Regions from separate parts of the Homo sapiens genome. Here region 1 is linked to region 2. The links come from fine-mapping of genetic effects on gene expression. A gene starts in region 2. The other region holds a variant in brackets. All regions are shown on one strand. Distances are between the middles of the regions. Region 1 overlaps LINC02395 (long intergenic non-protein coding RNA 2395). Region 2 holds the start of LINC02395 (long intergenic non-protein coding RNA 2395).

Region 1 (2,909 bases), 8.7 kb before region 2:
CCAAGGTATTGCTGGAGGCTCACCATACAAACCCAAGGTTGCACTCTTGTTCAATGCCTCCTGTGGCACCCCTCTACCCAAGGACAAAGTTCATTTCCTTGGCCTGGAACCTGAAGTTCTTCCACCTTGGCCCCAGTCCCCAGCCCCTTGCCTCATCTGCTGGCACTCCTCTCTACACACCCTTCACTCTGGCCACTGTTAGTCACCACCCTGAACAGGCCACACCGTATCACACCTCCACACCTTTACACAAACCGTTCCTTCTGCTGGGAATGTCCCCTCCCTTTGCTACCCAGAGAATCGCAGCATCGCCAGCCTCTGCAACACCTTCCTGTTCTGTCTGTATCTGATGTGGAGGCCCGCAGCCCGGGTTACACCCCTGGCTCCACCACCTACCTGCTGAGTGACCTCAGGCAAAGTTCTCTACCCTCTCAGCCTCAGTTTCCTCATCTGCAAAATGGAGAAGATAACAAGACCATCCTTCAGGGTGTTGTAAAGATGAACTGAGATCATGTGGGACCTGGCCCCTTCCTGGCACACACGAGGTGTAAATGATGACTGTTAGTACTATCCTTAGTGTTCCTATCAATACCTCACTCTGCCCAACTGCACTCAGGATCTCTGCCCTCTAAGGTGACCCAAGGACCCCCCAGGCCAGCTGATTCTGGAGAAGCATGGGGATGGGGAGATTTCCTGCAGTCAGCCCTTTCTCTCTCTTTCCCTCCCTCCCTCCCTTCCTTTTTTCCTTCTTTCCTCCCGCCTTCCTTCCTTTTCCTTTCTTTTCTTTTCCTTTCTTTCTTTCTTTTTCTTTCTTTCTTTCTTTCTTTCTTTTTCTTCTTTCTTTTTCTCTGTTTCTCTCTCTCCCTCTTTCCTTCCTTCCTTCCTTTTTTTCCTTCCTTCTTTCCTCTCTCCGTCTCTTTCTTTCTTTCCTTTCTTCTTTCTTTCTTTTCCTTTCTTCTTTCTTTTTCTCTGTCTCTCTCTTTCTCCCTTCCTTCCTTCCTTCTCTCTCTCTTTCCCTGCACCCTGCCTACCGCCCCCCCACCCACAACTACAAGAGGATTTTGCTCTGTCACACAAGCTGGAGTGCAGTGGTAAGAACACAGCTCACTGCAGCCCTGACCTCCTGGGTTCAAGCAATCCTCCCTCCTCAGCCTCCTGAGTAGCTGGAACCACAGGCATGTGCCACCACGCCTAGCTAATTGTATTTATTTAATTTTTGGTAGAGGCGGGGGTAGAGGTGAAGGGTCTCACTACGTTGCCCAGGCTGAACTCCTGGCCTTAAGCAATCCTCCCACCTTGGCCTCCCAGCATTGATCAGCCCTTTCTGATTAATGAAACAATTAGGAGGAGAACCATAATGGCAATGGAAACAGAACTCACCAAGAACAGCTGTGTTCTTATGCAAGGGTCTGGGTCACAGCAGGTGAGGGGGGAGTCTGGGGAAGGGGAGAGACTGCAGCTGCAATAGGGGTTGCACCCCCCACACGCCAGGCTTGACTGTGCTCCATCCCTGAGGGGAAGTGCCAGGGACGGCCCTGCTC[A/G]CCTTCTGGCCTGGTCTTCCCATCTATCAGGGCCTGCAGGAGGGCATCACCATCACCCTCTCTCTTCTCCACAACAACCGCTAGAGGACAGTGGGCTGTGGAGTCAGACTGCCCCGGTTCAGGTCCCTGCCGCGCCCCTTTCTAGGTGTGTAACCTTGGACAAATTGCTCAACCACCTGTGCTTCAGTTTCTTCCTCATCTCTAAAGTGGGGACAATAATAACGACTCCTGCTTCACTGAACTGATAGGAGGATTAAATTGCCATCATGTCTTTAAGACGCTGAGCACGATGCCTGGAAGACAGTAAGCACTCAGGAAATGTTAGTTATTATTAATCATTTCCTTATCGGGGGGTGGGGAAATAGAAGGAAAGAGAAGTGAAGTAACTTGACCAAAGCCATCCAGCTTGTAAGTGGTGGAGCCAGGATTCCACCCACGGGTTGTTTGCCTCCAAAGCCAGAGTTCTCTCAATTTTTCTATGTTGTCCCTTGTAATCACCCTTACTCCCTAAACTTAAGCTGGAAAAACAATTTTTAAAAAATATCCTAACTGGCTGGGCGCAATGGCTCACAGCTGTAATTCCAGCACTTTGGGAGGCCGAGGTGGGCAGATCATGAGGTCAGGAGTTCGAGACCAGCCTGGGCAACATGGTGAAACCCCGTCTCTACTAAAAATACAAAAAGTTAGCCGGGTGTGGTGGCGGGTGCCTGTAATCTCAGCTACTCGGGAGGCTGAGGCAGGAGAATTGCTTGAACCCAGGAGGCAGAGGTTGCAGTGAGCCGAGATTGCGCCATTGTACTCCAGCCTGGATGACAGAGCAAGACTCCATCTAGACAAAAAAGAAAAACAAAATACCCTAACTATAATGGCAATGTGTTGAAACATTTCAAATGTATGTAAATCCATAAGTTTATGATAAAAATTAATGATCACTTTCAGAGATGCTAGGGAACTCGCTCATTATTTTGAAAACTATAGGATTTTCAAGCCTCTAGATTTAGGGATGCAATCAAACTCCAGACTCTGGGAAATTCTACAGCAAAAATGACCTGGTTTCCTCAACAAATACATTGTAAGGGTGGAAAAAGAGAAAAAGGGGACCTATAATTTAAAAGAGACTTAAGGCCGGGCGCGGTGGCTCACGCCTGTGATCCCAGCACTTTGGGAGCCTGAGGCAGGCAGATCACATGATGTCAGGAGTTTGAGACCAACCTGGCAAACATGGTGAAACCCCGTCTCTACTAAAAACACAAAAATTAGCTGGACATGGTGGTGCACATCCGTGATCCCAGCTACTTGGGAGGCTGAGGCACAATAATTGCTTGAACCTGGGAGGCAGAGGTTGCAGTGAGCCAAGATCCCGCCACT
Region 2 (2,909 bases):
ATAATGGCAGCGGTAGCTTCCGCGTGTCTCTTCTCTGTCCTGCAGCCAGGGGGGCTTCTAAAATGGCCAATCTGGGCTGGATGCGGTGGCTCACACCTGTAATCTCAGCACTTTGGGAGGCTGAGGCAGGTGGATCACTTAAGGTCAGGAGTTCCAGACCAGCTTGGGCAACATGGTGAAACCCTGTCTCTACTAAAAATACAAAAATTAGCTGGGCATGGTGTGCATGCCTGCAATCCTAGGTACTCGGGAGGCTGAGCCACAAGAATTGCTTGAACCCAGGAGGCGGAGGTTGAACTGAGCTGAGATCGTACCACTGTACTTCAGCTCCAGCATGGGTGACAGAGTGAGACTGTCTCAAAATAAATGAATAAATAAATTAATTAATTAATTAAATGGCCAATCTGAGTGGGTGCCCACCCCTTCAACCTCCCTTACTCTGTAACTTCCCAAAGCCCTCCCCTGTCCACAAGGCTGGCATGATCTGCCTGATGCCCCAGGTACTTCCCCATCTTACAGCCTTTGCACAGGTGTTCCCTCTGTTTAGAACACTCATCCCCTCGCCAACCCCACCTCATCACTCGGGGCTGCTGGAGGCCTCCCCCGGACGTGCTCCTCCACCCATCTGCATTACTGCCCTGTTATTCTTCCACAAGGCAGCTTGGGCTTTGGCTTTGAGGCACTCGCCATGTGTGATTCTGCACTCCAGCATGTGGCTATTTACTTAAGACCTGCTTCCCCCTCTAGACTGTGAGCTCCTGGAGGGCGGGGAGGGGGTCTCTTGCTTGCTTCTGCTCTCCTAGCTCACGACATGACTCTCAGGCTGGGCTGGAAACACTTGGTTGAATAAATGAGTTCTGGTCCCCACCCAAGCACACAAGGAGTGACCCACACTGCTGCCGGGCCAAACTGCACTGAAAAATGGCATTGCTGTGTGGACGTGGCCCTGCCCACGTCCCGCAGGCAGAGCAGGAAGGGCTGAGGAGCCCTGGCCAGGCAAAGGGAGGTCATGGACACAGCACCGACACCTGCCCACCCCTTTCCAGTGACCCAGTCCTGCCTCCCACAGCCGAGCAGTGCTCTGTCAGTATGGATGGCCTGGACAAGTAGGGTAATGCAAGAGGCCTGGCAAGTTGAGGGCTCTGGCCCCTGGCCCCGCCTGGCTCTCCGCTGTTCCCAGCTGTCTTTTCCTCATCACTCCCTCCTTGGCCCAGACTTATCCTTTCATGTTATTCCTCTGGGGATGGTCTGTCTCCTACTGGAGGCTTACTCAAGGAAATGAATTTTTAGTGGTGGAATATTGAGCCTGTTATAGTCTCGGCCAAGGGTAGACGGCTGGGAAGGGGGTCCCTCAAACCCCACCTCTTAGACAGTTGCCTCCTGTCCCTGTGAATACAGCTGCTTTGCCTGGATCAGCCTCCAACCTCACTCTGGGCTAGGCCACCTTCTTCCTAGGATTCAGCTCAAAGTTGGCGCCTCATGTTTTCCTTCCTCCACGCCTTCATTTGCACACCATTCTGGTCCCCTGCAGGGCCTCATTCTCCTCCCCCAACATCACTGTCTCTTGTCTGTTGAAGCCTACCCTTTAAGATGCAGTTCAAAAACCACCTCTCCTTCAGGCCAATCCTTTTCAATCTCCCAATCAGATATAACTTCTTCTGAATCCTCCAAAAGCACAGTACTGATAACCTTCAATCATATATGGCTTTGTCTGAAGGATACTGGGGGACAAACAGCTGTCTCTGTTGTACCTGACATTCTAGAATGTCATGGTTCTTTGTTGCATGTAATACAAGTTGGTGCTGGTTATAAGCTTCTGAACAATGATGAGGATGGTGGCATTTGACATTCGGTAGGTGCATTCGACTATAAGTTCCTTGAGGGTGTGGATGAGAGTTCCACGTCTTTGTCTCCCTAGCACCTAGCATGGTGCCGGCACACAGTAAATTCTCAGCAAATGGTTCTGTGGTTCAGAATGGATGTTCACAATAATGGCTCTAACTTGTCAGGCCTGTCGTATGCCAGGCTGACATATGACGTATGTGCTGAGCCCTGTCCAAATGTCATCTCACTGAGTTTTCACAATCACTCTCTGGGCCAGGCACCAATAGTCTCCACTAAGAAGTAACCCCACAGGGCCGGGATTTGTGTCTGTTGTGGTCACTGTTGTACACACATCAGTGTTTGACATGGAGTTGGCCCTCATAAATATTGTTTGAATAAGTAAATCAGTTCATGGATACCCATTGTAAAGATGAGGAAACTGAGGCTCAGATTTACCTAAGGTCAATCATCTAGTAACTGGGAGAGTCAGAATTGGCACCCAGATTGATCTGACCCCAAACCCTGTATTCTTCAATATTGAACTCTACCAGGTCAAGGGATGGAGCAGGAAGGCTTGAGATACACAACCCATATCTTTAAGGCACTTTCCATCTGGTGGAGAAACGGAAATGTATGCACATAGCGGCACATGCGATGGCAACAGAACCCGTGAGACCCTGGGGAAAGAACTGACTTTTCGAGGGCCTGCTGCAAGGGAGGGGCTAAGCCTGGCCTAGAACTTTAGTTACCTGAAAACTTGATTTTTTTGTGTTATTCTAACGTGCAGAGGGCCTGTGCCAGGCCTACCAAGGAGTGAGCTGATGCGGCTGAGAGTTTTGGAATGTGAGGCTGGGATGACAAGCCTGGGGCCTGGCTCTTCTGTGCTCAGTGAGGACTGCTCCAGCCTCAGCCCCAACTCCCAGCAAAGCCCAGGTGTGGGGAGCAGGGGAGGTGAGACAGAGATGAGGAGGGACAGAAATGTGGTTTCACACCTGACCCAGCAATTCCTGCAGCTGGGAAGCATGGCGACTCAGAATGCCGATGCCTGCCCGAGGCTTCGGCTTCTTGTCCCGCGTTTTGGAGAC

Evidence for each region.
Region 1: its variant is fine-mapped to the expression of LINC02395 in nasal epithelium (TOPMed, PIP above 0.99).

What each region holds. Positions count from the first base shown.
Region 1 is chr12:49,919,467-49,922,375 of GRCh38, reverse strand. LINC02395 (long intergenic non-protein coding RNA 2395) reads right to left here. Exons shown (of 6, transcript NR_110048.1): 2 at 1-450. Among named protein-coding and RNA genes, the nearest start is that of LINC02395, 9.0 kb to the right of the region's middle. The variant A/G (reference allele first, on the strand shown) is at 1,542.
Region 2 is chr12:49,910,757-49,913,665 of GRCh38, reverse strand. It overlaps LINC02395 (long intergenic non-protein coding RNA 2395), which reads right to left and starts at 1,713. Exons shown (of 6, transcript NR_110048.1): 1 at 1,583-1,713. LINC02396 (long intergenic non-protein coding RNA 2396) reads left to right here and starts at 1,803. Exons shown (of 2, transcript NR_146570.1): 1 at 1,803-1,852.